2 separate regions of the Homo sapiens genome follow, and region 2 is linked to region 1. The links come from fine-mapping of genetic effects on gene expression. A gene starts in region 1. The other region holds a variant in brackets. All regions are shown on one strand. Distances are from middle to middle. Region 1 holds the start of CCDC42 (coiled-coil domain containing 42). Region 2 has its middle 19 kb from the start of MFSD6L.

What was found. PIP is the estimated chance that this variant, and not a neighbour inherited with it, causes the effect.
Region 2: its variant is fine-mapped to the expression of CCDC42 in whole blood (INTERVAL, PIP above 0.99).

Annotation. Positions count from the first base shown.
Region 1 is chr17:8,742,832-8,747,218 of GRCh38, forward strand. It overlaps CCDC42 (coiled-coil domain containing 42), which reads right to left and starts at 2,005. Exons shown (of 7, transcript NM_144681.3): 1 at 1,696-2,005; 2 at 1,248-1,353; 3 at 795-899. The coding sequence starts at 1,778. LOC105371529 (a long non-coding RNA gene) reads left to right here and starts at 2,095. Exons shown (of 3, transcript XR_934217.4): 1 at 2,095-2,200; 2 at 3,654-3,794. RefSeq lists enhancers at 2,438-2,657, 2,718-2,827 and a silencer at 3,048-3,317.
Region 2 is chr17:8,778,380-8,782,766 of GRCh38, forward strand. No RefSeq gene overlaps it. Among named protein-coding and RNA genes, the nearest start is that of MFSD6L, 19 kb to the right of the region's middle. The variant CACAA/C (reference allele first, on the strand shown) is at 1,792.

The DNA.
Region 1 (4,387 bases):
GAAGCTACTGACCCTCTGAGAGCCATTTGGAGAATGCCTCACGCCCAAATCTCTTCTGCCCCAACCACTCCATAAGTGTTTCTCTGGCTGCTAAGAAGAACTGGACCTCTGGAGAATGTGCCCAGTCCAAGGACTTCCTGTCCCACACGGCTTAGGCACAGAGCAGGAAGGAAGGTGCTTAAGAGCGGGGCTTCTTTGTGGCCGACGGCAATCATTACCCACTCCCGGAGCTGGACCAGGCCCTTCAGGGCTGCGTAAGTGCTACCTGGAGTGGGTCTGGATAAATCTGGATTTTTAAGACGATTAAAGTGCTCCACTAAAGACTGAAGTGAGAGAGGATGTCTTGGAATGGACTCTGGTGCCTGGTCCTTCAACCATCCCCTGCCTGGACCTTCAGTGCAAGGACAAGGATGGAGGGGTGGGGTGGGTGGAGGGACTAAAACTCTGTCTCATTCATCACTGTATTTCCCAAGTGTTTAGTCCTAACTGTAGCACCTTCATTCATTCATCCATGCATTCATTTACTGAATAAACTGTATGTCCTAGGTACTGGAAAAGAAATAGGAAACAGCCATCTAGAGGGAGCAGAGACTGATAGGTAAATGGAAAATTACAAACAGAGACAGGTGGGGGACATAAAGGACGCCTAGGGACATGCCAGGCAATGTTGGAGCACTAAGGATGCTTTTTAACTCAGGGCGAGGAGTCAGCAGAAGCAAGGAGGAGGAGTGCAGTTTGCCCACCTGCGGACTATGGATCCCCTGGCCACTGCGGCCGCCCACACCCCTTCAAACCTGGATGAACTGCTCAGACTTCTGGATGTGAGCCTTCAGTTGGGCTTCCTTAACGCCCAGTTCCTCCCAGCGCAGGTTCAGGGTTTCCATTCTGCGCTGAAACATCTTTGGGGTGGGGGTGGGAGAGCAGAGAGGTCAGGAGGGCTCCTGACATGAGTACCAAGGAAGACCCCAGCATCCCTGCCCCAGAGGCTCCATCCCCAGGCCCAAGAGGGTCCATAGGAGCCTCCCACTTTCTACCCCATGCCTGGCCCAGAGCAGAGCATCCCTGGACAGTGGTACCCCCAAGACCCAGATCCTTTCTGTTCTCCCCAAAGAGACCAGATCACCATAGAGGACTCCTGGCTCTAGCCACCCCACTCAGACAATGGAGGGCTGTCCACAGGCTCTCCCAGAGCCCCAGCCCACCCCCTTCCTTTCCTGCCCCTCTGCACTCCATCCCTGAGTCCCCACCTTCTTCTTCTGCACCATAGTTTGATGCATGATTTCTGTCTCCTTTTTCTTCTCCAGTAGCCAGATGGATGGGGACTCCGACGCCCCCTCAACATTGGGGAGTTTCCTGTCCAAGATGTGAACGCGAGAGGGCTGTGTGTTCTGACATGGGGTAGGCTGGGGCTGGGAGTAACCCGTGGAGACAGATACCCATGGGGAAGCAGAGGGGCCTCTCTCCCTTTCCGAGGGAAAGGGCTGTTGTGTTGAGAAGCATAGAGGGCCATGCAGGAGTGAGCAGGGGGAGGGTGACGGGGTGGAGACCAGCGTGATGAGGTGGACTGGTGCCAAGGTTATTTGGGGCACTGGGTTACAGGAGAGGAGGGGACAGACGGTTGGAAGATGAGGTATGGGGTGGGTGTGAGTGGTCCCAGGCACAGAGGGGTGGGCAAGCCAGGCCTCAGACACTCACTGGAGCATCTGCAGCAGCCGCTCCCCATACTGCAGCCGGAAGTACTCGGCCAGGTCTTCCTCTTCCATGATGCCCAGACTCATGGTGGCAGTGACCTCACGGCCCAGGCAGCTGACTCTTCACAGTGAAATTGTGGGTAGCAGAGCCACAGGTGGCTCAGGGGTGGTGGCTGCACTCTTGTTTCTCCCTTCGGCCTACAGGGTCCCACAGATGATGGAGTTTGAGACTCCACAGAAGGTGGCTGGAGACAGGTTGGGCGGCTCAGGACGATGTGCTGGGGCAGTTATGGGAGATGTGGTTACCTAGCAACAGGCTGCCTGGTTCTGTGGCCGGCACGTGGAGTCCAGGCGCTGCCCTCTGCCCCCTGCCCCCTGCCCCCATTGGTCCTCCCCTTGCTGGGGTCCTGCTCTCTGCTCCTGCCCTTTGCCCTCAGGAACTTCTGGGAAGGCATTAGGCCTGGTTAGATGCTGGTTGCCATGGAGCCCAGGGCCAGAGGCAGTTTCTGGTGAGTGTGGCTGAGAAGGGGCATCGGGTGGAGGAGCGGCCTTGTGCGGGCGCCCTGCTCTTAGGGCCTCCCTGGGGTTCAGGTGTGGGTGAGGGTGAGGGAGGGGCCGGGCCTTGGTGAAGAAGAGCAGAGAAAGAAAGGAGGTGCTTAGCGGCGGCAGGGGTGGAGTCGCGAGGAGGCGCGAGGTTAGAAACCAGGCGGCGGGCCCAGCACGCGGTGGGGCCGGGTGGGGAAGGGGGGACGGGCGGGGGGTGCGCGGGGACAGGCACAGGAGGAGGGCCCAGGCCAGGCCCCTCAGAAGAAGAGACTCGGGGCCTGCGCCAGTTTTTTGTTTTGTTTTGGTTTTGGTTTTGGTTTTGGTTTTTTTTTGAGACGGAGTCTCGCTCTGTCGCCCAGGCTGGAGTGCAATGGCGGGATCTCAGCTCACTGCAACCTCTGCCTCCCGGGTTCAAGCGATTCTCTTGCCTCAGCCTCTCGAGTAGCTGGGACTACAAGCGCCTGCCACAACACCCGGCTAATTTTTGTACTTTTGGTAGAGATGGGGTTTCTCCATGTTGGCTAGGCTGGTCTCGAACTCCTGACCTCAGGTGATCCACCCGCCTCCGCCTCCCAAAGTGCCGGGATTACAGGCATGAGCCACCGCGCCCGGCCCTGCGCGTTTTTGTTTGCATAAACTTAAAACGGGAAGAAATGTCAAAACACGGTAACGGAAATGACCCTATTTAAAATGTTGACTCCGTGGTGGCCGCCTTCCTTGATCCCGTCAGGCTGCGTGCATTAACTCATCTGGCTGGAGGTCGGACGTCTTCGCGTGGGACGGCGGGTGTGCGGAGGGCGCCCTGGGGTCTCCGGCTGGACTCTGGCCGGGACCTTGAGCTCGCTCCCGCCAGGCGCAGGCTCCCTCTTCTCTCTGCCTCCCTCCCTCCCACGCCCGCTACTGCCGCCACGCCCGCCACACCGCCCGTTCCGCTTCTCTCTGTCTGGGAGGGGGAGCGGGGTGGGGTGCGTGGGTTGTGGTGGGCTAGGGGTCTCGGGCGGGGGCGTGTCCCGAGCGCGGCCAGTCCGCCCCGCCGCATTGCCGGTCGTCTGGCGCCCCCTGCTGGCCGTCTGCCGCGCCCTCCATCCCGGCCCACCCCAGCCCTGCTCCCCTCCCACGCTCCGCCGGAGCCTCCCCTCCAGAGCGGACCATCACACACACCTGTCGCTTCCACCTAGTCCGGTGGGCTCAGCAGAGAAAGCAAGACAGTCCCTACCCCACGCAGAACACACCCACACAATGGCCACCCCAACCCTAAACAAGAGGTGGTTCTCCACCGGAGCCCCGGAGGAACACGCCCAGCAGGGCGACAATAAGACCGCCAAGAACGATTCAAGCTCCTCGGAGGGGCATGTTTCCTTGTTTATCCACAGAGGCTGGCACAGTCAATCTGGGCTTCCCCTCCCTTTCTTTAAGGTCGTGCCTAGGAGCTGTGCAACGCCAGCCCTTGAGGAGGAAGCCATCTGTTTCTGGAATCACCCTCCCCGCCACGTATATGAGACATATCCTTGATTGTCCGTGAAATCAGGTGGTCCAGGGCCAGGTTGGTCCATAGAGGTAGGTGTAAGACATCCTCTGCTCCTGCCCAAGGGTCTCCTCGTATCTGGAAGCTCTTTCTGCTGCTTGGTTTGGTACCTATCATGGGAGTTTTCGTGATCCTTGCACACCACCATCCCTCTCTGGAGTCTCACTGCCCTCCCAGGGACCCTGAGCAAGACGCAGGGCTGTCTCGGATTTACAGAGGTCTGTCCTATCCCCATCTTTTCCCTTCCCTTCCCTTCCCTTCCCTTCCCTTCCCTTCCCTTCCCTCCCCTCCCCTCTCCTGAGGATATAAAATAACTGAATAGACTTACAAAATGTCTAAATGATGGTTCAGTATGGTAAAGCTGTAAATTCCATCCAAATGAATTTAGGAATTTAATGCGATTGCAATCAAAATTTCAGAGAGTTTTTTTCCCCATAGATGTTGACAAAACAATGTAAAAGTTCATCTAGAGAACTGAGTACTTAAGGAACTATCACAAAAGAAGAATGAGAGGGAATGTCCACTGCCAGACACCAAAATGTGTTCTAAGGTGAAAGTGTTAAAACAGCATGTTGCTAGTGCCACTCCAGGCAAAATCCTCAAGTGCTCTAAGGGCTTGGGCAAG
Region 2 (4,387 bases), 36 kb after region 1:
TGCTGAATCACAATGTCAACATTTATACTAAAGCAGTACATAAAAGAATTTAAAATTTATGACTATGCTTATTAGAAAATAAAAAATACTCAGAACAAAAAGGTAAGTGTGTAACTCAAGAAGTTAAAAAAAAGAGCAATGGAGTGAACCCACAGAAATGAGAATGAAGGAACTAATAAGGATCATGGAAGAAATAAAAAGAGAGAGCAAAGACAATGGATGAAATTAGCTAAACCAAAACTAGCCTTTTTTCTGGGGGGTTGGGGGGAGAACAGTAAACACAAACCTCTGATAAGAGTAACTAAGCAAAAAGGACTGTGTTCAACTGAGTATAGCACTTTCTTGCTCATGCTTTTCACCTCATGGTTGCAAGATGGCTGTTTCTCCTCTAAGGAAAGGGAAGAGGAGGAGGTAGAGGCTACATCTGGAAAGCAGAAATCTTTACCAGACATCCTTCGCAGAATTTCTGATAAGGTGAACATTTTAAGGTGCAGAGTCTGGTAAGGTGAACATTTTACTTGAACACAATTGCTGCCAGGGACATAATGTGGGTAAAGAAGAGGGGAAATGGATATTAGGTAGGCAAGCAACAGTCTCAAGAACTATACACTAATACATTTGAAAACTTGGGTAGAAAAGGATAAATTTCCAGAAAATGTAAAATGTCATACGAAGAAATAGAAAATTACATAAACATTTGTATATAAAGTTTTCTTGAATACAAGAAAAGTGGCTCTACTGAACTCCAGGCACCAAGTTTTACCATATGTTGAACAGAGAAGCCTTATGTTATACAAGTTGTTCCATAAAATAGAAAATAGAAAAAGGAGGGAAAGCTGCTTGATTTATTTTATGAGGCTAGTATAATCATAATGAGAAAACAGGTTAAGGAAAGTGAAAGAAAAGAAAACAGAGTGAATATTAATGCAAAAAATTTTAAATAAAATATTGGCTACCCCAATCCAACGGTGTATTTTTTAAATCCTAATTTATGAGGATCAAGTTAGAGTTAGCTAATAATTCATGTTTACTTAAAAATCAGAAAGTAGGCCAGGCATGGTGGCTCACGCCTGTAATCCCAGCACTTTGGGAGGCTGAGGCGGGTGGATCACCTGGGGTCAGGAGTTTGAGACCAGCCTGGCTAACATGGTGAATCCTCATTTCTACTAAAAATGCAAAAAATTAGCCGGGCATGGTGGTGCGCGCCTGTAATCCCAGCTACTTGAGAGGCTGAGGCAGGAGAATTGCTTGAACCTGGGAGGCAGAGGTTGCAGTGAGCCGAGATCGTGCCATTGTACTCCAGCCTGGGCAACAAGAGCAAAACTCTGTCTCAAAAAAAAAAAAAAAATCAGAAAGTATATTAATATACAATCACCACAGGAATAAACTAGAGAAGGAAGAAAACCACATGATCTTAATAGATCCAGTAAATGCTTAATAAAGTTTATGATGAGTGTTATGAAAAACCAGGAATAAAAAGGAACTTCTTTAATTTAATAAAGCCTTCAGCAAACATCATACTGAAGCTTTAGATGTAGCCTGGCATGGTGCTTTTAATCCGAGCACTTTGGGAGGCTGAGGCAGGAGGATTGCTTGATGCCAGGAATTTCTACAAAAATTAAACAATAAAAACATTAGCTGGTCATGGTGGCACCTATAGTTCCAGCTACTTGGAAGACTCGGGTGGGAGGATCACTTGAGCTTGGGAGTTCAAGACGCCATGAGCTATGATCATGTCATTGCACTCCTGCCTAGGCAACAGAGTGAGACCCTGTCTCTAAAAATCAAATA[CACAA/C]ACAAACAGACAAAGACTTTAGACAGATTCTTTTTAAGGTTGAGAACACAAAAATGGTTACTCTACCACTACTATTCAACATGGCATTGGAATTCCTTGCTAACACACCAAGACCATGAAAACCACCACCACTGCCACCACCAATAACAACAAGAGGGTCAAGTGCTAGCAGGGTAAAGGCAAAATTGATTATTTGCAGATGAAATGTTTATTTACATAGTAAGCACAACAGAATTAAGAGATAGAGAGTCAGAACTAAAAACAGAGTTCAGCAAGATGGCTGGAGATGATGCCCAGCATACAGAAACTGATAGGGTTTGTTTGCACTGTCAATGACCAATTAGAAAATATAAAAATATACAAAATGATCTTTTACAATAGCATAAAAAACTGTCAAGTACTTACGACCTTATATAATGAAACTACATAAGATCTTTGTGGAGCAAAATTTAAAACTATTAAAGGACATAAAGAAGTTTTGAGGCCGGGCGCAGTGGCTCACGCCTGTAATCCCAGCACTTTGGGAGGCCAAGGCGGGTGGATCACAAGGTCAGGAGATTGAGACCATCCTGACTAACATGGTGAAACCCCATCTCTACTACAAATACAAAAAATTAGCCGGGCGTGGTGGCAGGTGCCTGTAGTCCCAGCTACTCTAGAGGCTGAGGCAGGAGAATGGCTTGAACCCGGGAGGTGGAGCTTGCAGTGAGCCAAGATGGCGCCACTGCACTCCAGCCTGGGTGACAGAGCGAGACTCCGTCTCAAAAAAGAAAATAATAATAATAATAATAATAATAAATAGAAATACATACTATATTCATAGATAAATGGCTTAACAATGTAAGGATGCCAAATCCCTCCAAATTAATGTACGAATTCAATGCAGTTCCAATAAAATTTCCAGAATTTTTTTGGGGGAAAGTGAAACACTTACTGTAAAATTTATAAGGGAGAATAAAGCCTAAAAAAGAAGAGTAAAGAGGAAAGACTCACCTTACCAAATATTGAGACATTACAAAGCCAAGTGCTAACTGTGATATTAGTGTGATATTAGTGCAGGGACAAATAGATTAATAAAACTAGAGAACTCAAAAGCAGACTTAAGTATAAAGATGTAGTGCCAGAAATCATAGAGGAAGAGTGGATTATTTAGTCTATAGCATTTTGAAAACTGGCTAAGTGGAGAAATATAAAGGTGGGTCCCTATCTTAAGTCTATTCAAAAGAAATTCCAAATGAATTAAAGACCTAAAATGAGAGTTTAAAATTAAAAGCTAATATGGAAAATGTAGTATCTTTTTAACTTGGAAGTGGGGGGGGTAGCAAGAGAGATTCTTATTTTATTTTATTTTTCTCCCTAGAATCCTTGTAGCAAGAGAGATTCTTAAGATCCTCAAGATAAATTGTAATGGGAAAATAAAAAACTTTGATTACATCAAAATAAGATTTTCTGTTCAAAAAAATATACCAAAGTTAACAAATGAGTGACAGACTGGGCAAAGATATTTCCGAAATGAAAATCAGCAAAGGATTAATATCTAGATTATACAACACACTTCTGCAAAACCACATGAAAAAAGACAAGAAACAGAACAAAAACTGGGCAAAGGATATTGTGGAAATATGAGTTTTAAGCTTCAAACACTTTGATTTGACTTTGGTTAAAATTGAGTTGGAACCAAAGGTCACGATCACAACTAGAAAACCCTCAGAGGTTAACACTTTTGAAAATGCAGAACTTTTAGTTTGTGGTCTGGCATGTTAAGAAACTTGGAAGTAACCACTCTGTCCTAACAAGTAAAAAGCTGAAAAAACTGGAAAATCAACAACTCTTCTTAGATCTGTGAGACAAGTGATGTCACAGGATAAACCAGTGCTCCCAAGATTGGAGAGACAGAGAGGTGAATACAGAGAATCAAAACATACGGAAGCAGAAACTCACAAGTAGAAACCGGCATTGTACTTGATGAGTTGCTGGAGGCTCGGCATGGACAAGTCTGAGAGATAAATATTCCAGGGGTACCCAGGCATAAGGGGGTCCCTACACTCTGGTGAATTTTACCTCCTGGAGCTCTACCAGGTTCTCACAGTGAATAATTTGAGAAAATTTCCCTCATGCTTCCATCCTGGGGATGGGAAAAGAAGCTATTTGGAAATACCAATGCATTCCATTCTTTTCAACAAAGCCTTCCTCTAGGAGAAACTATTTAACCAGTCTAACCTGCTGGGTTTTTATCAGAGCGTAATTAACTTAGGGGAAGGAAAATATCCAATTCCAACCAGCTGTAGCTTCCACATGGAGGAAGGGAAATACTCAACTCTAATTTCCTCCAACCTTCCATGTGGGAGAAGGAAAACCCTAATTCCAGTTCACTCTAACCATCCTAGTTTACCTAAGGGGAGAGGGGAGCAACTGAGAAGCACGTCTGAAGTTCACAGTCTAGGGGCATAGGCTTACTAAAAGACTGAGGCCTACTCATAGGACTATAGAATGCTCTTCTTCCCCCACACCTTACCACCACATTACTAAAGGCTTATGAACAGAAGTTTCTTTTACCCAGTACATTATGTCTGGGGAAAACAAATTACAGGG